4 linked regions of the Homo sapiens genome follow. The protein of the gene in region 2 interacts with the protein of the main gene of each other region in a pairwise test. Each region holds a gene or a part of one and is shown on either strand. Other genes may lie near its edges.

Region 1 (7,115 bases), on a different chromosome or scaffold from region 2:
ACTTCATGGGTATGGAGTTTTATTTGGGGGTGATGAAAATGTTTTGAAGGCCCAGCGTGGTGGCTCATGCCTGTAATCCCAGCACTTTGGGAGGCTGGGGCAGGTGGATCACTTGAGGTCAGGAGTTCGAGACTAGCTGGACCAACATGGTGAAACCCTGTCACTACTAAAAATACAAAATTAGCCAGGCGTGGTGGCACATGCCTGTAATCCCAGCTACTTGGGAGGCTGAGCAGGAGAATTGCTTGAACCTGGGTGGCAGAGGTTGCAGTGAGCGGAGATCAGCCATTGCACTCCAGCATGGGCAATAAGAGCAAAGCTCCATCTCAAAAAAAAAATGTTTTGAAATTAGATAGAGGTGGTGGTTGTACCTATTACTAATATACTAATGTACTAAATACCATTATATTATTCTCTTTAAAGTGGTTAGGCTAGGCCGGGTGTGGTGGCTCACGCCTGTAATCCCAGCACTGTGGGAGGCCAAGGTGGGTGGATCACCTGAGGTCAGGAGTTTGATTGAGACTAGCCTGGCCAACATGGTGAAACCCTATCTCTATTAAAAATACAAAAATTGGCCAGATGTGGTGGTGGGCGCCTGTAATCCCAGCTACTTGGGAGGCTGAGGCAGGAGAATCACATGAACCCAAGAGGCGGAGGTTGCAGTGAGCCAAGATCGCGCCATTGCACTCCAGCCTGGGCAATAAGAGCGAAACTCTGTCTCAAAAATAAATAAATAAATAAATACAATAAAGTGGTTAGGCAAGGCATGGTGGCACCCTGGGAGGCTAAGGCAGCAGGATCACTTGAGCCAAGGAGTTTGAGACCAACCTGGGTATCATAGTGAGACCCCATCACTACAAAAAATAAAAAGTTAGCTGAATGTGGTGGCGCATGCCTGTAGTCCCAACTACTCAGGAGGCTGAGGCAAGAGGACCATTTGCCCAGAAGTTCGAGGTTGCAGTGAGCTGTGATCATACCACTGCACTCCAGCCTGGACCGCAACTCAAAAAAAAAAAAAGGTTAATTTTATGTTGCATGAATTTCAATTTTTAAAAAATAGTTGATTACTTATGTACACTTTTCTGCATGTAAGTAATACTTAAGTTTGGAAAACTTTGGTGTAGTAGAAATAGCATGAGATTTGCCAAGCATTTTGCTGGCTATTAAACATATCTAATCTCATAATATACATTAAGCACAGCCATTGTGGGGGTGGCAGACAGTATGACCCAGATAAATATTAGTCCCCTTGCACAACTCAAAGCTTTCATACTCTAAAATTGTCCATGTCCCGGAGGCCCTGATTTCTTTCTTTCCATTTTTTTTTTTTTTTTTTTGAGACAGAGTTTCACTCTTGTTGCCCAGGCTGGGTTCAATGGCGTGATCTCGGCTCACTGCAGCCTCCGCCTCTCGGGTTCAAGTGATTCTCCTGCCTCAGCTTTCTGAGTAGCTGGGATTACAGGCATGCACCACCACGCCCAGCTAATTTTGTATTTTTGGTAGAGACAGGGTTTCTCCATGTTGGTCAGGCTGGTCTCGAACTCCCGACCTCAGGTGATCCACCCACCTTGGCCTCGCAAAGTGCTGGGATTACAGGCGTGAGCCACTGCACCCGGCTCCTTTTTTTTTTGTTGTTGTTGTTGAGATGGAGTCTTGTTCTGTTGCCCAGGCTGGAGTGCAGTGGCGCGATCTCGGCTTACTGCAACCTCCGCCTCCCAGGTTCAAGCAATTCTCCTGCCTCAGCCTCCCAAGTAGTTGGGACTACAGGTGTGTGCCACCACACCCGGCTAATTTTTGTATTTTTAGTAGAGACGGGGTTTCGCCATGTTGGTCAGGCTGGTCTCTAACCCCTGACCTCGTGATCCACCCACCTAGGCCTCCCATAGTGCTGGGATAACAGGCATGAGCCACCGCGCCCAGCTCCTTTTTTTTTTTTTTTGAGACGGAGTCTCACTCTGTCACCCAGGCTGGAGTCCAGTGGCGAGATCTCAGCTTATCGCAACCTCCACCTCCCGGGTTCAAGCGATTCTCCTGCCTCAGCCTCCCGAGAAGCTGGGATTACAGGCTCCTGCCACCACACCTGGCTAATTTTTGTCTTTTAAGTGGAGACGAGGTTTCACCATGTTGGCCAGGCTGGTCTCAAACTCCTGACCTCAGATGATCCAACTGCCTCGGCCTCCCAAGTGCTGGGATTACAGCTGTGAGCCACTGCGCCCAGCCAGAGACCTTGATTTCTTACCATACCTGCTGTCTGTAGAGCACCATGTAGCACTCAGCTACACTCCCTCTTCATGAGTGGTACTATTTAAATGCCTCAGGTTAAACATCTAGAGATTAGGGATCTTTTCTTACACTTCCTTGTATTTTATTTATTTATTTTTTTGTTTGAGACAGAATCTTGCTCCATCACCCAGTGGATTCTCCTGCCTCAGCCTCCCAAGTAGCTGGGATTACAGGCGCATACCACCACACCCAGCTAATTTTTAAAATTTTTTAGTAGAAATGGGGTTTCACCACGTTGGCCATTCTGGTCTCCAGCTTCTGGTCTAAAGTGATCCACCCACCTCAGCCTCCCGAATTGCTGGGATTACAGGCGTGAGCCACCGAGTCTGGCCTCTTACACTTCCAATGAACCCCATAGCTTGTAGCACATTGCTTTGTGTGGTAAGTGTCTCTATTCATGGTCCTAGCAGGAAATGAATAGCACAGTGAAATTAGGATAATTTGGGGGAGAGTTTAATAAAGTGATAATTACAAAGAAGTAGGCAGGGTGTAGGGAAATCAGAAAGAATAGTGCAGTGCCTTAGTACCCACAGCTCTGTTGTGATCACCTCCAAGCTCAAAAAGATGAGGACAGAGCAGTCGTGTAGAGAGGACTTTCTTTTTTTTTTTTTCTTTTCTTTTTTTTTTTTTTTTTTTTTGAGATGGAGTCTTGCTCTGTCGCCCAGGCTGGAGTGCAGTGGCGCGATCTCGGCTCACTGCAAGCTCTGCCTCCCGGGTTCACGCCATTCTTCTGCCTCAGCCTCCTGAGCAGCTGTGACTACAAGCGCCCGCCACCGCGCCCGGCTAATTTTTTTTGTATTTTTAGTAGAGACGGGGTTTCACCGTGGTCTCGATCTCCTGACCTCGTGATCCACCCGCCTCGGCCTCCCAAACTGCTGGGATTACAGGCGTGAGCCACCGCGCCCGGCGAGAGGACTTTCTCAATAAAAACTGTGACTTTCATTGATACCGTCCATTTGGGACAACTTACTGAAGCAGAAAGCAGGGTGGAGACTGAATTCAAGGGAAAACATAAGATGTCTGGTACAGCATACAACAGCATTGATTCAGAGGAGGGTGGGAGTACTGAGCCCAGGAGACGGAGAAGGAATGTAAAGCCTGCGAGAGGCTGCTCAGCAATTATCTGGTCCCTTAGCCTACAGGATTAGCAGCTTCCTAACTCAGGCAATTATCTCTCTGGACCTGTTTCTTCTATCTATAAGTTGATGGAATTAGTCTAATGATATCTAAGGTCCCTACTATGTGTACGTCTACTGTGACAAGGTCCTTAGCTGCATGATCTTTAATTCTGACAAAGGTTACTATCACAAATATTTTAACATGTTTATTCTCGTGGTTACTAATCAACAATCTCTGGCACTATTACAACAAACCTTTCAGTATTTACAGAGAAGTTATTTGCCATTCTTAGCAACTGGCCAGTCAACAACTCAACTTTATAGTAAGTTACAGAATTTATTCTGTATATTGTATTCTGTACAATGTATTCCATACATTAATTTATTTTGTGGTAAAACAGTAACTTTTCATTTTAGATGGGAAAACTAGACGAGCTGAGATTCAACCCACGTGAGCGGCTGCAGAGCCGCTACCCTTAACAGCTCTCTCTCGGGATTCTAACATTCCCTTCTGTGACGGAGAGACAGCAGGCCGGGACACGCATCCCAGGACGGATCCACAGCTGGATGGGGAAGGCTGCGCCAGGCGGGCCGGAAGCCTGGCGGTGGCGTGCAGGAGCCCCGCCCTCCTGGGCTGGATTCAGCCGGGGGCGGGGCCGCGGGCGGGGCCTGTGGCAGCGGGAATCCCGACCCCGCCCCTTTCCCCACCCCTCCATTTCTCGCCATGGCCCCTGCACTGCTCCTGATCCCTGCTGCCCTCGCCTCTTTCATCCTGGCCTTTGGCACCGGAGTGGAGTTCGTGCGCTTTACCTCCCTTCGGCCACTTCTTGGAGGGATCCCGGAGTCTGGTGGTCCGGGTGAGCGGGAGGGATCGAGGATGAACTGGGAGGAGGAAGGTGGAGCCGTAGGAGAGGGATTGAGGGCGGGGCTTGGAAACAAATGACAGGGGAAGTCCAAGAGAGGGAACTCGAACCTTGAAAGCGGCCGAGAAGCTACAGGGGAGGGAGACCTGAGTTCTAAATTAGGAACTCAAGGATTAGAGTTTTGGAGAGGCGGGAGAGTGAGGACTGAGGGAGCCGAAAAGGGCGGTGACCGGAGTATTCTAAGTAAAGTGTTTTGTAGAGAGGACTGTTGAGAGGAGAGTGTTAAAAAGAAGGAGCATTTGGAGAACCGAAGTAAGAGGGGCAATCCAGCGTGGCCTCTCCAGCCATGCTTTTTGCAACTGCCTAACATGTGGTGTTCTATAAATCCTCTTCCCCAGGTTTGCAGGAGGCCTAGGGAAGAGGGCAGAAACTAGGGATGGAAAAGTGAGATGGGCACAGCCTAGAGAGGAAGCATTAAGGCTCTTGAAAGCAGTAAGGGACATGGCCTGGGGATCCAAGAGGAGATGAGGGTGGGGGAAACATTCTGCCACTGTTTCGATCTTTTGTCTCTTTTTCCCTCAACTTCCTGTAGATGCCCGCCAGGGATGGCTGGCTGCCCTGCAGGACCGCAGCATCCTTGCCCCCCTGGCATGGGATCTGGGGCTCCTGCTTCTATTTGTTGGGCAGCACAGCCTCATGGCAGCTGAAAGAGTGAAGGCATGGACATCCCGGTACTTTGGGGTCCTTCAGAGGTCACTGTATGTGGCCTGCACTGCCCTGGCCTTGCAGGTATGAGGCCCTGGCCTTGCAGGTATGAAATCCTGGCAGTTGAGTCCCCAAGGGAGACCAAGTGTGGGAGGGGTGCCGTGGATTGGAGGGGCAAAATATGGGTTCAGGAGGAGAATTGAGGAACTAATCTCAGCTTCCATTCCTCCACAGCACATATCCTACTTTTTATCAAGAAGGGTGTACTTGTCCTTCCCTAAGCACAAGATATGCTTCTCACCTCTGCAACTTTGTTTATGTCCTGCTTGAGATCCCTTCTCTTCAGTCCTACCCTTTCTTCAAAACCACTTCCCTAGGTCTGAAGAGAAGGCCTTGTCTGTCTTTTCACTGGGTGGTTGGCACAGGCTACTACTTTGCGTAGCTATCAGGTCACCCCATCTATTCTATAAGTTCTCAGGGTAGAGACAGGCCATCCTTACATCTTTGGGACCTCACCCAGCACGCACCCTCCACATGGTGAATATTTGGTGGTGATGCTTAGGAGAGAGGTGGGGGAGAGTTGCAGGCTAGCCTGTGGTGGGGGCAGATCTGGGTCTGGGTCTCCCAAGGTCGGGCAGACTAGGCCACTGGGATACCCAGCCCCTTATCCTTCCACAGCTGGTGATGCGGTACTGGGAGCCCATACCCAAAGGCCCTGTGTTGTGGGAGGCTCGGGCTGAGCCATGGGCCACCTGGGTGCCGCTCCTCTGCTTTGTGCTCCATGTCATCTCCTGGCTCCTCATCTTTAGCATCCTTCTCGTCTTTGACTATGCTGAGCTCATGGGCCTCAAACAGGTGAGGCTCCGAGATCCCTACCTATGACCTCTGACCCATTTTAGAACTCCTCGTTCCCTTTCAAGGGTTTCCCTCCTCCCATGCTCTTCTACTGTCTCCCTGCTTCTCCCTCGTGGCCCTTCCCTTTGACTTTCCCTCGTAAGGGCAGCAAGCATGGGCCTCCTGGGCCTGGGGAAGGTACATGGATCAGAAGTCAGGATCAGGGATCCAAGTCTCAGAAGGGGGGTTCCTGGGCCTGAGTTCTAGAAGGGTGGTGCCTGGAAGAGGAGGAAAGAAGTGCCCAAGATGAGAAAAGGGCTTGACTCCATTTCTAAGCTCTTCTCCCTCTCTTAGGTATACTACCATGTGCTGGGGCTGGGCGAGCCTCTGGCCCTGAAGTCTCCCCGGGCTCTCAGACTCTTCTCCCACCTGCGCCACCCAGTGTGTGTGGAGCTGCTGACAGTGCTGTGGGTGGTGCCTACCCTGGGCACGGACCGTCTCCTCCTTGCTTTCCTCCTTACCCTCTACCTGGGCCTGGCTCACGGGCTTGATCAGCAAGACCTCCGCTACCTCCGGGCCCAGCTACAAAGAAAACTCCACCTGCTCTCTCGGCCCCAGGATGGGGAGGCAGAGTGAGGAGCTCACTCTGGTTACAAGCCCTGTTCTTCCTCTCCCACTGAATTCTAAATCCTTAACATCCAGGCCCTGGCTGCTTCATGCCAGAGGCCCAAATCCATGGACTGAAGGAGATGCCCCTTCTACTACTTGAGACTTTATTCTCTGGGTCCAGCTCCATACCCTAAATTCTGAGTTTCAGCCACTGAACTCCAAGGTCCACTTCTCACCAGCAAGGAAGAGTGGGGTATGGAAGTCATCTGTCCCTTCACTGTTTAGAGCATGACACTCTCCCCCTCAACAGCCTCCTGAGAAGGAAAGGATCTGCCCTGACCACTCCCCTGGCACTGTTACTTGCCTCTGCGCCTCAGGGGTCCCCTTCTGCACCGCTGGCTTCCACTCCAAGAAGGTGGACCAGGGTCTGCAAGTTCAACGGTCATAGCTGTCCCTCCAGGCCCCAACCTTGCCTCACCACTCCCGGCCCTAGTCTCTGCACCTCCTTAGGCCCTGCCTCTGGGCTCAGACCCCAACCTAGTCAAGGGGATTCTCCTGCTCTTAACTCGATGACTTGGGGCTCCCTGCTCTCCCGAGGAAGATGCTCTGCAGGAAAATAAAAGTCAGCCTTTTTCTACATATGGCATGCAGTCTGTCAGTGTCTCCCAAGCTACAGGGCTGAGTTTGGGAAAGAAAGCCAGAG
Region 2 (7,027 bases):
TGACAGCCAATAAGCTGAGAGACAAGGTGTTGGGGCAAGGAAGGCGACTTTTTTCCGAGAGCCAGCAAGTCAAGAAGATGGTGGACTAGTGTCCTGAAGAACCATCTTAAGTTAATAGAACTTGAGACTTCTTTTATGTTAAGGGAAGGGGAAAGAAAGGCGGAGGTGAGATCAGGAGGAGACCGATGAGCACAGACATCTGGATGGCAGCGAGGGTCCAAGGGGATTGTGAAACTTCTCTGTCCTTGGTCAGGCCATGATGCTCCTCCTATAAGTCTTCAACATAACATTGTTATTTGTGTGTACTCCCTCTTTATCTCCTTGGGGGTTAGTTTTGGGAACGGACCACTGTCATCCTTGCTTTAAACTATAAATTCTTCCCATAGTTCACTCGGCCTATACGATACCACTATGGGGATGTTAAGGGAGAATGGAGGCAGTAATGCTGAGCCGCCTCCTCGCTGTTACAGCTGTTCATTTTTCTACCCAGATGGAAAAATCAGTTTGAGACAGAAAGCAGGTTTGAAAATATGGCTTTTTCCTTCTTTGCTGGGTTCCTGATACTTCCTTTTCTTAATTTTCCTTTTCAGTTTTCCTTTTCACAAATTTTTTGTTTTTAACCAATCAGTAATTTATTTGTATCTCAAGTCTTCCAATATAAGTATGTTTCTGTTTTTATTAAGTACTCTGACTCTTAAAGCAAGCTAGTTCTTTTGAATCTACTTCTTTAAACTTTAGAGACCTCCTAGTCAGTGACTTACGTCTATAAATTGAGATTTAGTGCCTTTAATGATTCAGATCTGTATCAAAAAGTCTTAGCCCCTTTTACAGTTTTTTGTTTTTTAACATTACATTTATCCTTATTTTAGAATTATTGAGCTATTTACTGGTTCTTATGGTTTATATAAGCTGATTTAAGGTTAATTTACTTAAAAACCACAATTTTGTGAAGTAAAACTTAACTGACAAGTGTGTTTTTTTCCTCCAAGTCTTATCTGTTCTGTAAAGTGTCCATCTCTGTTATAGTAAGTAAAACCAGTGTTTATATCCGTGTTAAGGTTCTACAAAATGACACTTTAACCTGGACCACAGTATCTGCATTTACTTCAGTAGAGTACCTAGAGGAACGTTTTGGAGATGAGTGTGTGAAAACAAAATGTGGCAGTGGAAACGCCAGCTGTTGCTGACGTCGTGCTGATCACAGTCAAGTGTTGCCCGGCGCCCTTAGGGTTCCGAGAGGTGTGGGTTGAGAAGCTCCACTAGGCTGGACATTTTCTTGTTCCTTTCTAGTAGGCGTTCTGTGATGTTCGTGCCCCATTTCTCCATCCCTGGTTTAGGAGTTGAGAGCTGGAGGTGAATCCTGTAGTGTTGGGTTAGGGTTGTTAGTTTGCAGGTAGTTGGTTGCTCCTGTGTCCTTATTTTCACTCCATGTAAGGAAAAGTCGTTTGAGATCATCTAGCCCAGGGCCTCGTTTTACAGAAGCCCAGAGGGTTTAATTCAGTTGACGGAGTTCGCAGCTGATAAAAGGTATAGCACAAATTGAAACTGGTTTTTTGAGTCCTGGTCTAATTTAGCTGTTCTACTTCAGCTGCCATAGTATTACCCAGTGAGTGAGATATGGGCCCTTCCCAGATAACCCTGAGGTGGTATTAAGAATCTCTTTGGGGCCGGGCGCAGCGGCTCACGCCTGTAATCCCAGCACTGTGGGAGGTCAGGGCAGTGGATCACAAGGTCAGGAGTTCAAGACCAGCCTGGCCAAAATGGTGAAACCCCCATCTCTACTAAAAATACAAAAAAATTAGCTGGGTGTGGTGGTGGGTGCCTGTAATCCCAGCTACTTGGGAGGCTGTGGCAGAGAACTGCTTGAACCAGGGAGGTGGAAGTTGCAGTGAGCCACGATCGCGCCACTGTACTCCAGCTTGGGCACAGAGCAAGACTCTGTCTCAAAAAAAAAAAACTATTTGGGATTAACCTTGAGGTCCCCCTGAAGAAAAACTTCGTTGCAGAAGAAAAACTTTGTTGCAAAAGAAAAGCTGCAAGAGTACTGACCCTGAAGGGACCCAGTTGCTTCCTTTTAGTTTCTGGTTTCTGTTTCCTTTTTTTTTTTGAGACAGAGTCTCACTCTCTCGCCCAGGCTGGAGTGCAGTGGCGCGATCTCCGCTCACTGTAAGCTCCACCTCCTGGGTTCACACCATTCTCCTGCCTCAGCCTCCTGAGTAGCTGGGATTACAGGTGCCCGCCATCACGCCTGGCTAATTTTTGTATTTTTAGTAGAGACAGGGTTTCACCATGTTGACCAGGCTGGTCTTGAACTCCTGAGCTCAAATGATCTGCCCGCCTCGGCTTCCCAGCCCTGTTTTCCTTTCTTAATATGTCCCATTATCTGTTTATTCAAGCTAGATGAACCTGCACCCTCTGAGCCCTCCTAGGGGTTCTTAACTTCGTGTCCATGTAGTTGTATTTGAGGCAGGGAGAGGCTGAACCATGGACACAACTCATCTTTTTTTAGATTTATCTATTTTTAAGCAAAGGGGTCTCACTATGTTGGCCGGGTTGGATTCAAACCCGGGCTCAAGCGATACTCGTATGTCAGCCTCCCGAGTAGCTGGAACTATAGGCACACACCACTGCGCCCAGCAACACCACTGATGTTATATACACAATTTTGGGCCATGTTTTTCCTGGAGAAAGAGCCCCTTGAGATGCTGTGGAGGGGATTGAGATGCTGTGGAGGGGGTGGAGGTGGTGTGGAGGGGAGGGGGTGGTGGTGGTGTGGAGGGGAGGGGGTGGTGGTGGTGTGGAGGGGAGGGGGTGGAGGTGGTGTGGAGGGGGTGGAGGTGGTGTGGAGGGGGTGGAGATGGCGTGGAGGGGGTGGAGATGGCGTGGAGGGGGTCATTCCCTCGTTTCCCTCGTTGTAGGGCCACATAGAGAGGGTGTTTTTAAGTCTGATTTAATGATACTAAATAATTTACTGAATGTCTTCATTCTCTAGCATTTCGTGTTATGTTCATTGTTTCCAGCTCACGAGTGGACTCTTGTCTTTCAGGGCATGAAAATCAACATGGACAAGAATCGGAGGCGAAAGCCAGCAAGCGACTCCGTGAGCCACTGGATGGAGATGGACATGAAAGCGCAGAGCCGTATGCAAAGCACATGAAGCCGAGCGTGGAGCCGGCGCCTCCAGTTAGCAGAGACACGTTTTCCTACATGGGTACATCTTCCTTGGGTTTTCAGATTTTAATACCACAGTCAGGAAAATGTTATGTGTAAAAGGTGTTTCCCACTTGATGGGGGGAGTTTGAGCTGGTGTTTATCATCTTCATTCTTATGTGTAAAGATTATTTAGAAATCACTAAGGCCATTATTTATAATCAAGTAGTGCAGAATTAAACTTTTGGATGTTCTTAGGAAAACCCTTACATGTAAATGAACAACTGTAATCTTTTGAAATACTAGTATTCCCTGTGCATGCAGTACTTAACGTTAAGATGAAATGCGAAGACTCCAGCTTTTTCAAATAACACCTCACACGCAGCTGCTTGTTATAATTGATTAGCACCAGCATTTTAACCTTTCATATTCAATCTTTGGAAAACAAGAGATTCTATTTTATCCTGAGAAGCAAGGTAGTAGTGAACTTTTCTGCTACCTTTCACTCCAGGAATCAGTTATGTATTTAGTGACTCACAGAATAGAATTCTCCTTTGTGTCTTTTACACATATGAGCAGAAAGTAGAAATAAGCATTAAAAAATATAAATCAGTATATTTATAGGTTCTAATTTAATTCAAGGGAAACCAGTAGAAAATGTTTTGCCAAGCTGTATTATTTATAGATATGTTTTGCAGTTACGTAAAAAAAGATCAAACAAGTATTCTTTATTTGGTGATTTACTAGTAGGAATTGAAGCAAAGATTTGTGGAGTTGCAGGGAGATGAGCCGTTTCCAGACACTGACCATTGCTGGAGGCTTGGTGGCCTGGAACATGGCGGATAGCAGGTGCTGGCTCCTGAGACAGTTCAGTGGCTGGGTGGGAAGCTTGTAGTCATGCTGATACAGTTAAGTTCCAGCTGAACGGAGGAGCCCTGCCCAACACCCACACTCCCCTTGGCTCTCAGCCCCGCTCCTGTGAGGAGCACATCCCCATCTTTGCCCCTTCGCCACTGCTGAGCTCAGTCTGCCGTCCTTCGGACAAGTACTTCCACTTCCTGCGCGTACCACCTCTATTTGCCCTCTCGCCCAGCTCTTTTAACACTGTGCAACCTGACCTCTGATCCCACCACACTACTGAAGTGTCCTGGTCACCAGTGGCCTGAGAATGCCCCCGTCAGTCCTTTTTTACCTTGTTCTTTACAGCCTTTGTGTGTCAATCATACCCTCTATCTAGAGGGAAAGAAGCAAAGACGGGAACCACACTTAACTAGCAGCAAATATGCCAGGGAAGAAATTAGACCAGCACTGGTCAGGAGACTGGGCCCTCTGGCAGGCAGGGTCACCGTCATGCTGAGGCGCTGCTCGTCTCTGGAGGATGGCTCCCTGGGAGTGAAGGTGACCCTGCCGTGGAGACAGCGCCATTGTCCTCTGAACCCACAGTGTGGGATGTGAACAGTAGTTTTTACTGCAGCAGGCTCTAGTTTTACAAGGTGATTGCCTTCACCCCGAACTTGCCTGGCCTGCAAGATCAAAATGTAAGTGGATTCCAAGCATAAATGTTAGGTGCCCCCTTGTAAGGAATGGAGCATGTTTTCCTAGAGAGAAAACGTCTGCAGCGTTGTAAAATACCCTCTCGGTTTAAAATGCTAAGTCGACCTAGTGGATTTTTGAGGTGAATTTCAGTTTTTAGTAAGGTCAGCCCAGCAGCATGTACTTCCTTTTCCCACAGGAGACTTCGTCGTCGTCTACACTGATGGCTGCTGCTCCAGTAATGGGCGTAGAAGGCCGCGAGCAGGAATCGGCGTTTACTGGGGGCCAGGCCATCCTTTGTAAGTTAAACGAAGCTGAGTTTTACTGAATCATGTTCCACAACTTGTGAAAAGATGAGGCGGGATCTGCTCATTGTTTGATTATTGGGAAAACCTGCAGATAAGTAGCTCTGGCAGGGGTGGCAGAGGAGCAGCTTTGGTTCGTGTTGGGGCTAAGCGGCATTGCTTTTCAGAACGTGAGGTACCTCAGCTTTACTTCCTTTGCTTTTTTTTTTTTTTTTTTTTTTTTTAAGACACGGTCTCACACTGTTGCCCAGGATGGAGTACAGTGGCACAAACACAGCTCACTGCAGACTTCACCTTCTGGGCTCAAGCGATCCTCCCACCTTGGCCTCCCAAACTGTTGGGATTATGGGTGTGAGCCACTGCACCTGGCTTTGGTGTTTCTTTCTTGCCCTGGGGAGGAGTCTTTTTTTTTTTTTTTCCTGAGACGGAGTCTCACTCTATCGCCCAGGCTAGAGTGCAGTGGCGCGATCTCGGCTCACTGCAAGCTCCACTTCCCAGGTTCACGCCATTCTCCTTCCTCACCCTCCCGAGTAGCTGGGACTACAGGCACCTGCCACCAGGCCCAGCTAATTTTTTGTATTTTTAGTAGAGACGGGGTTTCACCGTGTTAGCCAGGATGGTCTCGATCTTCTGACCTCGTGATCCGCCCACCTCGGCCTCCCAAGAGGAGTCCTTTTTTCAGTAGAGATGAAGTCTCACTATGTTGCCCAGGCTGGGCTCAAATTTCTGGGCTCATGCGATCCTCCCACCTTGTCCTCCCAAAGTGCCGAGATCACAGGTGTGAGCCACCACCCCTGGCCCAAAAATTGCTCATTCTTTTAGGAAACTCTGGATCTCCTGGTGACCCCAAATTTTAAATAACTTGTCTAAGGGTTTTTCTGGTTCCTTGATTTCATTTTCCTCTTTTACTTCCTGGAGGTTTTTAGTAGTTTCAATCTGAAGTCTCACTCTCTCCATTCTTCTTCCCGAGTTTTCTCCTGGGATTCTTTCTGCTGCAGCCATAGGGCCTAACCCAGGGTCCGCAGAGAACCAGCTTTTACTTCCTTTGCCCTAGTGGAACCCATGAGAGTCAGAAGGTGCCCAAGTGTGGAAACCTGTGTGCTGCTCTCTGCTGGGAGTCTGTTAGTTTGATTTTTATATGATGCTTTTATATTTCAAATAAGAATACACACTAGTTTATCGTTATCCATTAAGAAGAATCACTTTGAGAATTCACTTTATACTTTTATTTTCTTTTGTACTGTTTTGAAACAGAAATGTAGGCATTAGACTTCCTGGGCGGCAGACAAACCAAAGAGCGGAAATTCATGTAAGTTATCAGATACGTTTAAGCCTCTCTTTTTTGAGCATTGAGTATGAAATTATCAAATAAACTAATTCTTTTTTTTTCTACCTATACATATAAGATATTTGAAGAGAGACGGGTTTAATAACAATTTTGAAAAATAGGAATTTTGTAGAAAAATTCTAAAAACTTATTTCAAATAGATGTCTACACAGGAGAATTGTATGTATAGTAGTGTTTCATACAGAGAATATAATCAGTACAGAGGGGATGTTTCAATTTCGAAGTACTTTTGAACTTTAGTAATGTCAGAGTTGAACATTTTCTGTAGCATGACTATCGACTTGTCTTTTCAAGGCAGCCTGCAAAGCCATTGAACAAGCAAAGACTCAAAACATCAATAAACTGGTTCTGTATACAGACAGTATGTTTACGATAAATGGTAAGCTTTCACATTTGATTTCTTCTGTTTTTCCAGTAACTGTGAAGGGAAATTGGTAGGAGGTGTTGTAACAGGGCAGGACCCAAATGGGAACGGGGGGATGACATTGGTTTGTCAGGTACCGAGCAAAGAGTGAGGATTTTGGAGTCTCCCTTCTGCTGCTCTGATGTTTTCCACATGCTTATTTCTTTGCCAGGCACTGGAGATGCAGTCAGAAGTGGAAGTGGCTCTTACTTCTAGTCTGTGTGTGTATAAGTCACTTAAGATGGCGTGTTGACTGCTTCTTTGGGAAATGCCCTGAATAGGAGCATG
Region 3 (7,027 bases), on a different chromosome or scaffold from region 2:
ATTATTTAATAGTTTATAATGAATGTACAGTGTGAAGTTACTTTCTCACTTTTTCTTAAGTGATATTCATGTTTTATTGTATACTGAATCATTATTTGAACACTTATTTTTGTGGACCTAAATATATTTTAAAAGTGGATACTTGCCAATAGACTCATTCCTTCTAACAAAAGTAATTTTTTTTTTTCAGCAAGATCAGCATTGGACACAGCTGCACGTTGTAAGTATTTCATCTCAATATTTTATGTATGATTTATTCTGCCTTAGGCATATGAGAGCTTATATTCAAAGTGTCAGTAGTTCAGTATGAGGAAAAACTGCTTTAGAAATTGCTTTTTAAAGTTATGAGGATGCTATTTGATTGGACAGCCCAAATATTTTTGGCAATTATTCATGATGGATATTTTGTGTTTTTTAGCTCCGTTATTATAAGTACAGAAATTGGTGTGAGAAGGAGTTAAGAGTGTACATGGGCAAGGTAGTCAATGGAACATTAGGCCTTTTTTAATTATCCTGGAGGTGACGATTTTTTGTGCATATATGGACTAGAAGTGCAAAGTAACATTCAGAACCCCCCACATCCTAAAATTTAAAAATAAACTCATAGTTAGATAAAATATATTTGCCCTAATGCAGATCATATTACTTGACTCATTTGCATCCATTATTAGTTTGTTTCCTAGGAAGATCTGGTGTCTGTTGTGGGTTTCTTTGTTGCTGTTTTTTTTTAAAAAAATTTTTTGAGGTTCTTTGAAACCCTCAGGGGAACAAATTAGCTTGTATTTTAAGATACGTGTATCTTGATGTTTTTCTTAATGCTCTTTGTGGTTTGAGATTTGAAGTAAAGTGAGGTAAAGTCTGTTAACTTGTTTTCTAAAAAAAGACATCATGTTTTCTCCCCCAAAGCTACAAAGCCTCCCAGATATAAGTGTGGGATCTCAAAAGCTTGCCCTGAGAAGCATTTTGCTTTTAAAATGGCAAGTGGAGCAGCCAACGTGGTGGGACCCAAAATCTGCCTGGAAGATAATGTGTAAGTCTTTGTTGACTTGAGACGATAAGGTGTGCTATTAAATTGCAGCCAATTGAACCTGAGTTTAATGGATATTTTGAAAATGTGTTCGGTATACTTTATTAATGGAAAGTGATTTCCATTTTTGTTATGTAGTTTTTTTCTCATGAATTCAAGGGACCTTAAAGTTCTTAAATTTTATATTAGAGAGTGACTAAGAACGTAACACTTATTCGGCTTTATAGAGATAAGAGATTTCCTCTGAGTAAATTCTCTAGATCTGCACTGTCCCATTTGCTAGCAACAGAACACATGTGGCTATTTAATTTTGATCCTTAAATATTAGGAAGAAAGTTAATTCACTTAAATTAACTAAAAAGTTCAGTTCCTTGGTATCTGTCACCGCAGTTCAGGTGTTCAGTGGCCACATGTGGTTCATGGTCACCAAATGGAACAGCAGAGAGAGCATTTTCATCGTGGCAGAAATCCTATTTGCAACATTGCCCTGGACAATGAATGTGTTCTCTTTATTTTAAATGAAATCCAACGTCTTTCATTTAAAATATTTGAGTGCTACTTGTTGAAGTGTGAAATGATCCAGTGATAACCTCAGTTCCATTGCAGCACAAACTGCTTGCCTCTAAGCTGAATGGTTTCCTATGTTGAGATGCTTTCTAAAGGATGGTTTTTAGGATTTTTGATATCCTACCTCAGTGTCAACTGTTGCTCGCAAGTTCCTGCTGCTGAAATTGCAAATCCTACTTTTAGTTGGTTGCTTTTAATATGCTATTGCCTAGAAAACTAGACATGGGGGCTTATTTAAATTTAATATAAAATAATAAATTTGTCACGAATTATATAGAATAAAGAGATAATTTTATAGCAAAGAGGAGACCTAGGCAGCTTTTCCTAGCTGTTTATGTGCCTCTTCTTTTTAATATTGAAGCTCTTAAATTTTTATCCTAGCCTCTTTTGCAGGCAGTTAGCTGTAAGAAGTTTATTGAGCTTCATGGGACAACACTTTTCTTGTAAAATTAAGGGCTTGAGCTAGATGATCATTAAGGTCTGTACTGATTTCCTTTATTTTCCCGTATTCTAATGATGATTTATTGTTAATCCATTTGTCTTCTGATTTCTCATTAGAATAGTCCTGTTTTACTGATGCATAATAAGGCACTTGCATTTTAGAAGTTTGTAGGTTTTTGAAAACATTCTCATTTCCACTCTTTATCTTGTTTGGTTAAATAGACCCCAAATTTGATTCTAAATCACAGGAACAAAGTTCTTTTAGAATACCTAACCCATGGATGATTTTGGACATCTATTCTGCCCCCTTGATGCATGTGAATTTTAGTTCAGAGAAGAAGAGATCAGACTGTTTACTAGCAGGTTTTTTATTCACAGATTAAAACCGTAAACAACAAAACACACTCAGAAAAAAAGCTCAACTGTTTACCCACATCCTGACCCTTATTCACTTCTCTCCAGATCTTCCTGATCTTGGGGCCTTAGAGTATACTCTTCTGTCTAGGATGGTCTTTCCTCACTCTTCACTTGGCTGTCTTCCTTCTTGACCTTTGGTTCTCAGAGTACACATCACTGTCTTAGAAGCTGTTCTCTATCCCTCAGCCTAATGTTGAACAGCTAAAGATCTAAGGTCAGAAAGCGAACAGTGCATAGACAGTGGAGCTTGGTAAAATACATACTGGGCTTAGAGCCAGAGAATTTGCTTCTAGCATGGTGGGCGTGTCATGTAGCATTTGTGTTTCAGTTTCTTTAACCATTAAATGAGGCAGGCCACCTATCCATCCTTATTTCAGGAACCATTCTGCCATTACCATGAGAGATTAAATACTTGGTGGGATTTTATACCCAAGCCTCAGGTTAAAGTCCAAAGAAAGAGTCTTAAGTTTTCTGAGAGTCATTTATTCACCTGTTCAGCAAGTATTTTTGAGCATAATCCCTCCTGTCATGGAACTTACAGTTTAGTAGGGGTGACAGATGCTTAAAAAAAATACGTACTTATAAATTGTGACACCAGGCTGGGCGTGGTGGCTCATGCCTGTAATCCCAGCACTTTGGGAGGTCGAAGCGGGTGGATCACCTGAGGTCAGGAGTCTGAGACCAGCCTGGCCAACATGGTGAAACCCCGTCTTTACTAAAATACAAAAGTTAGCCGGGCGTGGTGGCACATGGGCCTGTAATCCTAGCTACTTGGGAGGCTGAGGCACGAGAATCTCTTGAACCCAGGAGATGGAGGTTGCAGTGGGCCAAGATCGCACCACTGCACTGCAGCCTGGGTGGGCGGCAGAGCGAGACTTTGTCTCAAAAAAAAAAAAAAAAAAAAACAACAACAACAACAAAAAATGAACAAACAAATTGTGATACCAGCCCTGCAGGGCAGCAGGGTGTGATGAGTACTGGCGAGAGTGGATGGAAAGAGGTGTCTAACTTTTAGATTGAGGGTTATGGAACAGTTTCTAAGACAGTGATGTGTATTCTGAGATCTGAGGGATAGAAAGGAAGACCATCCTTGGTCTTCGAGCAGGAGGAAGAAGCCTGCTCGAAGGCCCTAAGATTGGATAGCTCTGGAGAGAAGTGAATTAGGGCCAGGCTGCATAGGAACTTGTAGGCCACGCAGGTAAAGGGTTGAGACTTTTTTCTGAGTGTATTGAGAACTTGTGGAAGGATTTCAAATTCTGGCATGTCGTGATTTTATTTATATTGAAAAAAGTTATCTGGTTGCTGTGTAAAATAATTAAGGAAGTGGAATAGAGAGGACAATTGGAAGGCCATTGCCAGTTACTGCCACAGCACTTTCATACTGCCTCCCTGTTGGTAACAGACTTTATTGCTTATACATTCACTAAAATCTATAAGTAGATAATAAAAATAACACAAGCAGAGAATTTAGTCTTTTCACAGCACCTGCTCTGAGTACATGTAACTCACTTTGGAGACTACTAATCTTGGATCAGTGTGTCTCAATGGGGGCAGTTTTGCTTTCCAGGGAACATTGTAATTTTGGGTTGTCATAGCTTTGGAGGTACTCCTTGTAGAGGCCAGAGATGCTGTTAAACATCTTTCAGTGCATAGGTCAGCTCATCCACAAGAATTATCAGGCTCTTAAAATGAGAGGCTGGGTTTGAGAAACTCTGATACAGACAGGTGATAATTACAATTAGGATGGTGGTCATAAGTAGTTGAAGTCAAAATACATTATGCTGATAAAGATGTGTTTTAAATGTCTCATTAGTTAGAAAATCGCAGGTATGAACCTCAGGTCTCAGGAAAAACAGTAATTGCAGCTTTTTTTTTTCCTTTACTTTTTCTTTTTTCTTTTCTTTTTTACCTAGAGACAGGGTCTCATTCTGTTGCCCAGGCTGGAGTACAGTGACGCAATTTTAGGTCACTGCAACTTTGAATGCCTGGACTCAAGCGATCTTCCCACCTCCACCTCCTGAGTAGCTGGGACTACAGGCGCATACCACCACATGCAGCTAATTTTTCTATTTTTGTGGAAATGGGGTCCCATTGTGTTGCCCAAGGTGGTCTTGAAGTCTTGGGTTCAAGCAGTCTTCCCACCTCAGCCTCCCAAAGTGCTGGGATTACAGGTTTTTTCTTTCTCGTTAGAGCACCCATAGAACTAACTTATGTTCCAATTATAATTTTCATCTAAGGCATATATTCATTTGATTTCAATTTGTATGAATTTGATATTAGGAATAATTCATTACTTTTGATTTTAATGGTAATGTTTGCTGCAAGAATATGAGATTATTTTGAGGGATTTTTTTTTAACAAGGGATCAATGTTTTTGGCTATGAGGGCAAAGAGGTAAAATCAAGGTTATTATGTATGTACTTACATAATCATTTAAAATGTAACCATTTAAAAATGTAAAAACTATTCTAAGCTCATGAGTAGTAAAACAAATCAAAAAACCAGTTGGCAGGATTTGGCTCGTGAGCTATAGTTTGCCAAGCCCTGCTTTAAACTAACCATCTTAAGAGATAATAACTAATAACTAGGACATGAAGTAGCTATTTGAAACAAATCTATATTTGGATATATTGAGTATTTCTACAGATGATATAATCATTTCCTTTAGAATTTTGCCTAGAGATGTGGGAAGGGGTACCTTATATTCATGAAGGATAAAAGAAAATATTTCAACTTGTGTTAGTAAGGGTTACTAACCTTTATACATTTTAAATCTCAGTGGATTTTTTATTTGTTAGAGATTTTCTGTTTGAATTTCAGTTTTTAAAAATTGATAAGCTGCTGCCCTCTTGTGGGAAGCCTATGTCATTGTGCTTCTTTGTTACCTTTATTTCTTTGCTTTATGATAGATTTCAGTCTGTAAAATGCCACATCATACTCCTTGATGATCTTTACTTGGAAAAGTCACTCTGGCACTTAACCCGTTAATCACAGCAGTTACTTCTTAATGATGGAGTTTACTTATTGAATGTATTTCTGAAAGAAACAGAACAGTACATTTTGAAACTTCCTTCTCTTTGATGCAGCTGAGCCAATGGTTAAGTAGTAAAGCATAGAACCTTTTAAATGTATATGCTCCAAGCTAGTACTTTTAAACAGCTTTGAGATATAATTCACATGCCGTCCATTTTGCTCATTTATATTATACAGTCAGTGGTTTATTATATTCACAGATATATGCAATCTCTGCCACAGTCAATTTTAGAAAATTTTTATACCTCAAAAAGAAACCCTGTACCCCTTAGCTAATATCCTTCTATGCCTTTCTTGTCCTGCCCCACTTCCCCACCCCCAAACCCTAAGTTAACCATTAGTTTCCTTTCTGTCTTTATAGATTTGCCTATTTTGGACAGTTCATATAAGTGGTATATAATATTTGGTCTTTTGTGATTGGCTTCTTACCATAATGTTTTCAGGCTTCCTCCATGTTATATCATGTATCAGAACTTCATTCCTTTTATGTCTGAACGATATTCCATTGTATGGATATACCACATTTTGTTTACTCATTCATTAGTTGGTAGACATTTGAGTTGTTTCCACTTTTTAACTATAATGAGTAACATTTACAGAAACATTTATGTACACATTTTATGTGGACATATGTTTTGATTTCTTTATACTCCCAGGGAGTGGATTTTGTTTTAGGTGGTAACTCTGTTTAATTATTTGAGGAACTGCCAGATAGTTTTCCAAAGTGGCTGCATCTGTTTGCATTTCCGCCAGCAGTGTATGAAGGTTCCAATTTCTCCACATCCTTGCCAACACTTGTTATTATCTGACTTACTGATTATAGCCAGCCTAGTAGATGTGAAGTGAAATCTCATTTGCATTTCCCTGATGATTAGTGGTGTCTAGCATGTTTTTGTGTGCTTATTGGCCATTTGTATATCTTCTGTGGAGAAATGTCTGTTGAAACCCTTTGCCCATTGATAAATTGGGTTGTTTCTTTATAATTGAATTGTAATTTCTCTTTTGATTAATGTTTGCATGATATGTCTCTTTCTACCCTTTTACTTTCCACTGCCTATATAATTATATTTAAAGTGAGTTTCTTGTAGACAGTGTGTAGTTGGTTCCTGTTTTAATTCACTTTGCCAATTTCTGTCTTTATTTGGTATGTTGAAACTATTTTCATTTATTATAATTATTAATATATGAGGGTTTAAGTCTATTTTATTATTTGTTTTCATTTTCTCATTTTCCTGCCTTCCTATGAGTTACATAAACATTTTAAAAAAGTGTTTCTTTTGATTTATTTATAGTGTTTTTGAATGTATCTCCCTATAGCTTCTTTAGTGCTTTCTCTCTTTACACAAAAAGTTTGCAGACTCAAGTTCTAGACTTGAGGTGAGGGAGAAAATATTACACAGATTAAATTGAAAAATATGTCCTATCTATATCTATTATATGGTGGATAGCACCAAAAATGTAGGAAGTAGTCTTCCAATATTTAAAACTTATTATCTGATTCAGTCATCATTGACAGGCAAGTGGAATTTGAACATGAATCTC
Region 4 (7,027 bases), on a different chromosome or scaffold from region 2:
CTCAAATCTTTATCTCTAGACTTACCTTCTCCCCTGAGTGCCAGGTCTCTATTTCCAGCCACCTCCTGGATGGTTCTACAAGTGTGTTCCAATAGCAACTAAATAAAATACATAAGCACTAAATTCATCTTCCTTTCCTTGAACTTGCCTCATGCCTCCCAAATTCCCAAGGTTTGCTCAAGCATCGCCACCCTCCACTGTCCAAAGACTGCAATTGCAGCAGCATCTTGGATGCCCCATTCCTGTATCACACATTCAAGAGTCACCTCTTGCATCTGCTCTCTAGTCTCCATTTCTTTCCAGCATCCCAATTCCAGCTCTGTTTATCTTTTGGGTGGGCTGCTGTGACAGCCTGCTAATTGTTCTTCCCACTGTCCCCATAGGATTCACCCATGGGTTCCACAGTAACTTCCTAACAAAGGTCTGATCCCATTAGTTTGGGATTCAAAGCCTCCTATGATTTAGTTTCTAAAAGACTCTTTCACTTTGCAACCTTATTCTTTATGTACCATACACTGCTGGCTGCTGAATTATTATTCAATATTCTTCATATGTGGCCATAATTTTTGGCCTCTGTGCCTTTAATGGATACTGTTCCAGAATACCCCTCTTTAGCTTTCAATGTCCGAATCCTTCTTGTCTTTAAAAACCACCACTCTGCAAGTTGAGTGTCTGTGAGCAGGTGAGGCTCCTGCTCATGGAGCCATCTGTAGTATTTTTAGCTTATCTGTAGAGAGGCCATCTGTAGTACCTCTTCTATGACCACGGTGGCCTTCAATCTTGTGTTATCTTCCTGAGCAGACACACCTTGCTAGGTGTCCTCAGAAGAGGACGGCCCCTTCTGAGTCATCTCTGAATTTCCCACAGCACCATGGGCTGCCCAGGGCAGTTATCTGCCAATAATCAAATAGACAATTCTGCAGACCCCTGAACACTCATCCTCCACTCAGACCTCTACTAAGAACAATAAGAAATGTGTAAGACAACAATAACTTGCTTTCTGATCTCCAGGAGCTTACATACAGCTTGCTATGGAGATAAGGGTAATATATATTAATGAATAAAGAGTAATAGAAGATAGGAATGGGATTACTGAGGATATATACTCTGAGAGGTTCTATTTTTATAAAACTAAATTGGATCTTAGTAATAGGTTTATTTTGGACAGGTGAAAAGACGGGCATTCTAGGGACAGAGATTATCAGCATCATAGGTACAGAAGCCAGAGCAAGTATGGTTTGTTCAAAAGATCATGAATAAACATGTCAGGATTAGGAAAGTAACACGCAAGGGAGGGAGAGGAGATCTAACATTCATCACGTCCCGACTGATACCAGAACATGGACTGAGCACCTTATAGGCATTATTCCAGTTAATCCATACAACAACCCTGCAAAGTAGATGTTATCACTGCCAATTTTATAAGCAAGAAGGCTGATGTTTGAAGGGATTAAGTAACTAGCCAAGGTTACACAGGTTAGGTGTTAGAGCTGGGATTTGAAAAAGGCAGCCAGCTTCCATTGCACCATACCATCTCCTCTATATCAAAACGTATAAATATCATGGGGTGAGTTCTTCAGTTAGGGGTACTTCTTGTAGTCATGAATAAGTCAAGTTGCAAAGCAGGAAGCACAATGCATAACATCTGCAGGGCTCAATGCATGTTGGCTGACTCTGAATGCACATCTGTCTACCCAGAGAGAGAAACAAGGCAGCTCCTCAACTAGATAAGTACTCTGCCGAGAAATAATGGAGGAGGGCAGCCCTAGAGCTGGGCAATGTCTCCAGGCTAATAGAAAGCACCAAGAAGGGATATAGACTTAAGAGTTTGGATTAATATCACTTTGCTCCAGTCTACTTCAGCTACAAAAGAAGATAAGTAATCCAAAGGAACACAACTGTGTTGTAACAAACTCTCATCCTCTGAGGTGACGGATATGACGGATAACAGAGGACCCATACTTGGTCTCGTTGGCACATCGAATCTTGCAGCCTTCCTTGGGAATCACCAAGCCCAGGTGCATTCGGAGCCTGCAGTTTGTGGGCCCTGTGTGCGGCCACACGTGAGTCCCGGGGTGCATGATGGAATATTTGATCTGCATAGAAAACATGACACTCCATTCAGCCATTTATCAAGGTGTGGAGGAACTGCTAAGTTAAGGTGACAGTACAAAATTACTGTCAGTTTGGATTAGAGCCTTTGTAAGATTTAATATTTATATTCAAGTCTTATTTCTTTGTGAAGGAACTAAAAATAAGCACTCACATTTTCCACAAAGCTATAAACACTGAACATTTTCCACCCTCAATTCTGACGTCAACCACATAAAATTATGTTTCAGTAAAAAGGGCATGTAAAAAGAGGCATTCATTGGGCCAAAGGAAACAACCATTTCTTTGTAAAGGTCAACACGCCCTTATTCCTAACAATTAATTGTATTCTCCCCAGCACGACACTCTTGGTACCTGTCCTCTTCTGCATCCTGTTGTCTCGGGGAACTTTTCTAGTAAGGTACAGGTTTTAGGAGCTCCTTTGCAGGCATTTTCATTTCTTCTTCCTAGAATAAATAACATAATTGTTGGAAACAAATCACAGTAAAGCTTAAACTTATCCCATTTAGATGAGGTGAGAGCTATATGTCATCCTCACTGCAGGAATGAGAAGATTGAGTAAACATGAGAAGATGAAGTAGGAATGCAAAAGGCTTATTGGAAATAAATAAAAATTTATCAATAAAGAAGACGTGTCTTGCTCCAATAGGTAGTGACTGGCAGAGCAGGGATCCAAATTCTTCACTCGGTGTTGGACTATTTGACTAAGAATGTCTAACAGACAAGACACAGGTTAAAGGCCTTTGACCTTGAATAACACAGGGATTAGGGGCTTCGATCCTCCATGCATGTTAAGTTTTGACTCCCCAAAAACTTAACAACTAATAGCCTACTGTTGACTGGAAGCCTTACCCTATATCATAAATAGTTGATTAACATATTTTGTATGTTATATGTATTCTATACTATAGTCTTACACTAAAGTAAGCTGAAAAAAAGAAAATGGTATTAAGAAAATAATAAGGAAGAGAAAATACTTTTACAGTACTGTACGGTATTTTATCGATACCATAAGTTTACATCATCTGTTTACAAGATGAATTGAATGTCTGAAATGGCCTGCAACTACAGGTACAGACCTTAATCTACAGTACATATCAATCAATTCAACTTTTTCTTGTAGGGTCATGACTTTTCTCTGCTTCTTGGCAGCGTGTCCATCATCATTAGTTGCTCTTTGTATAGGTCCCATGGTGTTATTCGAGGTTTGCAGCATTGCATTAAACACAAGGAAAAATACACAAGAACCATAAGAGACCACTTTTCACCGTGATATGCAATTTACCAGAGAGAGGAACTGCTCACATGGAGACGACAGTATCACATGGTATTTTAAGCAGATACTGAAAACACTTGAGCTTGCCGAATAGCAACAGGAAGCAGCTATGAAATTATTACAGTAGTATAATCTGTACTACAGTTAATTTAATGGAGTTATGATTTAACACTGCATCTTCATGTTTGTTTACATTTCTCTTGACTATGAATGGTGCTATGTATGGTCTGTAAGTGCTTCCATGCATATGTTGATAAATTTTATTTCTTTATAATAGATTTGTATATATATAGTAAATGATACAATAGATTAGTACCTATATATATTTCATGCATTCATGACATACCTAATTTTTCTTAATTTTAAAAAATATTTCCAGGCTATAAGGTTCATCTGCAAATTTTTTTCAGATTGCCACAAATCTCAAAAAAATTTCCAATATATTGACAAAAATTCTTACATAAGCGGACCCATAACATTCAAATTCACGTTGTTCAAAGGCCAACTGTACTTATTTTTTCCCCTGTGACAGGAAAAATAATAGTTAGCTCCCAAAAGATGTCCATACCCTCATCCCATAACCTGTGAATATGTTGTCTTTCATGCAAGAGGGAATTAAGGCTGTAAGTGGCACTGAGATTTCTTATCAGCTCACATTAAAATAGGGAGATTATCCAAGATTACCTGGATGGGCCCAAGGTAATCACAGCATCCTTAAATGTGGGAGGAGGCAGATGAGTAAGTGTCAGAGTGATACAGTATGAGAAAGACTTGACTGGCCACTGCTGGCTCTGAAGATGGAAGGGGGCCACAAGCCGGGGAATGTGGGCAGCCTCTAGAAGCTGGAGACTCCAGAGGGAATACAGCCCTGGTGACACTTGTATTTTAGCTCAGTGTGATCTATTGTAGACTTCTGACCTCTAGAACTATAAGATAATAAATGTGTCTGTGTTTTAAGCTATTAAGTTTTGTGGTAATTTGTTACACCAGCCACAGGAAACTAATACATCCCCTAAAGAAGGAAAATAGCTTATATTATATTTCTAACTTAGAAATGCATTTCTAGGACTATATTAGTTGCCAAAACACTATTTTTATTGGACTTCAATGTCTTTTCCATATCCAGATCATCCTTTATATGATGATAAAGAATAGGATTTAAATGAAGAAGGCGTCTTTGAGAGGGGACATATTCTATGATTAACTGTCAAGAGCACAGATTCTGGGACATGTCATTTAAGTATCCTGAACTATGCAAATTTCTTTACACTCTATAAAGCCCCTGCTTATTAGGGAAGATGTGCTCAGAATGTACACAATGTCATCTGCTCTAACGGGGGAGTAAAACAATGGGATTTTTAAAAGTCAGAGACATTTTAATTCCCTATTCAAGATTCCTAAAAGAGACTGCTACATCTAAAGCTGAGTTTAATTTTATTTAATTAATGTTAATTGTGTCCTAAGATAATCACATACTGAGAATAAAATAAGAGTTACAAAAAACGCAACTAAAAGGTATTCACCCCAATCAAATGGAGCTCAATGTTTTAGAAAACAACTTAGCTTTTTCTAAGTAACCTTTTTGGCTCTTAATTGAATAAAATGTTAATTGCTATTTTTAGTTATTAATGGAGTTCCCCAAATGAACAATAAATGTCAGTTTGGGTGAATATTACATAAACCTACGAGTCACCGTAAAGTGTTTTTGAGCCTGGGCTTTCCAAGTCTTCTGGTATGCAGGGCCTGGGGCTGCTTGGCAGGAGTCCCCAATTCTGAGCTCTGTGCTGTCCAGGCAGCAGTTAAGTGAAACTGGTGGCTTGGGGAACAACCATAGGTGGCCTGGAGTTCTCACAAGCACCAGGTGGCTGAGCATGTGCTACCTGGAGAACAGATGTGCCTTACCTGAATGACAGGTGATGAATGGGTAACCAAATGGGTTGTGTCCCTGAGATTTTCAAGGAATTAGAGAACACCTCTAGCTCTTTAGACACATTTATCTTTCTGGTCTGTAAACCCAGATTCTCTGTGCAGTAGACTCTGGGCATTCATGCACTGTCACTGGTCATTTTAACTCTTCACGTCTGATCATGAGGGTCCAAGGAATGCAACGGCAGTTCCTTGATGCTCACGACAGGCCAGGAACCACTCTGCATGATGAGAGTGCCTCATTTGATGTCTACAACATGTCATAAGAAGGCTCAATTAGTGTTGTATTTTATAGAAAGGCAATTGAGCCACAGAGGGGTCACATAGCGAACAGCAGAGCAGGAATTTCAATTCAGCCAGACTGGACCCAGTGTTCATGCTCTTAACCAGACCAGAGACCACCTCTCCACTACTGTTATTACATCATGTGCTATTGTTAGACCATAAAAATATAATATTACTATCATATATTGGATAACTGTGCCAAGTCTTTCATCTAGTGCTCACTGATCCTAGTAACAACCCCATACTTGAGGCACTATTTGCCATTTTTCAGATGAGGGATTTGAAGCTCAGAGATTCAGGGACATGCACACATCACACAGCTAACAAGCGGTGCATCCAGGACTCTAACCTAGGATTGTTGGTTTCCAAAGCCTATGCTTTAAAGCATAATTTCTCATTTTGTTGCATTGTAAGTTAGAAGGCAGCTGTGCAGGAGCAAACCAGTTAACTCAGCCTGAAGAGGAATGCCCAGCATCTGCAACTCACTGTGGCTTTGTTGTCGTTTGATTATTTCTCACCAGCGTTAAACTAACCCTCAAGAAGTAATAAACCTTGCTTCTTTGGGAAAATAGCTCTAGAAAGAGATCTAACAGCCAATGCAAATCTGGAAGAATCATTTAAATTTATCACTTCTTACACATGAATATACTTTGTGAGGGCTATTCATGGAACTGATATCCTGGGTTGTATCTTTTATAAATTTCAAGGCTCTGCTTCTGGGGCAACAACAGGTTCCATCTTGCATGACAATTCTGATCAGTTGCTAGCAGCCACCTAGAACACTGCGTTGAGAAGGACTTAGAGGTTCAGCCTCAGCTTATTCAGAAAGGCTGTTGGGGTCAGTTAGCACCTTTCCCATGGGCTCTGGAAGAAAAAAATGACTGCACATGTGTGGCATATTTTAATCACTGTTGGTGGCACTTATTAAGATAAGAGCAAAATAGACGTTCCATAATATTCACATAACAATTTAAAAAGTTATTTTTGGGGAACAAAATCATTATTTATATTTGCTGATTCTGGTTTTTTCCTTCAACTCTAAAAAGCCAGTCCTTTAAAAAAACATAGTTCAGTCCTAATGAAACTACTTGGATACTGTATCAGTTCGCTAGGGCTGCCACAAGCAAATACCACAGACTGAGTGGCTTAAACAACAGAAGTGTATTTTCTCACAGTTCTGGAGGCTGAAAGTCCAAAATTAAGGTGTGGCCAGGCTTGGTTTCTCCTGAGGCCTCTTTTCTTGGCTCCTAGGTGGCCACCTTCTTCTTGTGTCCTCACACGTCATTTTCTCATCCCTAGTGATATGGTTTGGCTGCATCCCCACCCAAATCTCATCTTGAATTATAGTTCCCATAATCCCCATGTGTCATGGGAGGGACCAGGTGGAGATAACTGAATCATGGGGGTGGTTTTCCCCATCCTGTTCTC

Evidence for each region.
Region 1: the proteins of RNASEH1 (region 2) and NRM interact in binary tests that used the Homo sapiens proteins (3 or more experiments, as listed by UniProt).
Region 3: the proteins of RNASEH1 (region 2) and FAM3C interact in binary tests that used the Homo sapiens proteins (3 or more experiments, as listed by UniProt).
Region 4: the proteins of RNASEH1 (region 2) and ASPH interact in binary tests that used the Homo sapiens proteins (3 or more experiments, as listed by UniProt).

Annotation. Positions count from the first base shown.
Region 1 is NC_000006.12:30,687,985-30,695,099, reverse strand, and holds NRM (nurim), read left to right. Parts: upstream 1-4,115; 5' UTR 4,116-4,125; coding exon 4,126-4,258; intron 4,259-4,269; exon of another isoform or gene 4,270-4,756; intron 4,757-4,856; coding exon 4,857-5,053; coding exon of another isoform or gene 5,054-5,075; intron 5,076-5,629; coding exon of another isoform or gene 5,630-5,647; coding exon 5,648-5,824; intron 5,825-6,157; coding exon 6,158-6,439; 3' UTR 6,440-7,051; downstream 7,052-7,115.
Region 2 is NC_000002.12:3,548,328-3,555,354, reverse strand, and holds part of RNASEH1 (ribonuclease H1 isoform 1 precursor), read left to right. Parts: intron 1-3,046; coding exon 3,047-3,211; intron 3,212-4,882; coding exon 4,883-4,982; intron 4,983-6,242; coding exon 6,243-6,297; intron 6,298-6,630; coding exon 6,631-6,715; intron 6,716-7,027. UniProt on the Homo sapiens protein: Endonuclease that specifically degrades the RNA of RNA-DNA hybrids.
Region 3 is NC_000007.14:121,365,303-121,372,329, reverse strand, and holds part of FAM3C (protein FAM3C precursor), read left to right. Parts: intron 1-190; coding exon 191-220; intron 221-906; coding exon 907-1,030; intron 1,031-7,027. UniProt on the Homo sapiens protein: May be involved in retinal laminar formation. Promotes epithelial to mesenchymal transition.
Region 4 is NC_000008.11:61,515,566-61,522,592, forward strand, and holds part of ASPH (aspartyl/asparaginyl beta-hydroxylase), read right to left. Parts: intron 2,559-7,027; coding exon 2,467-2,558; intron 2,097-2,466; coding exon 1,963-2,096; intron 1-1,962.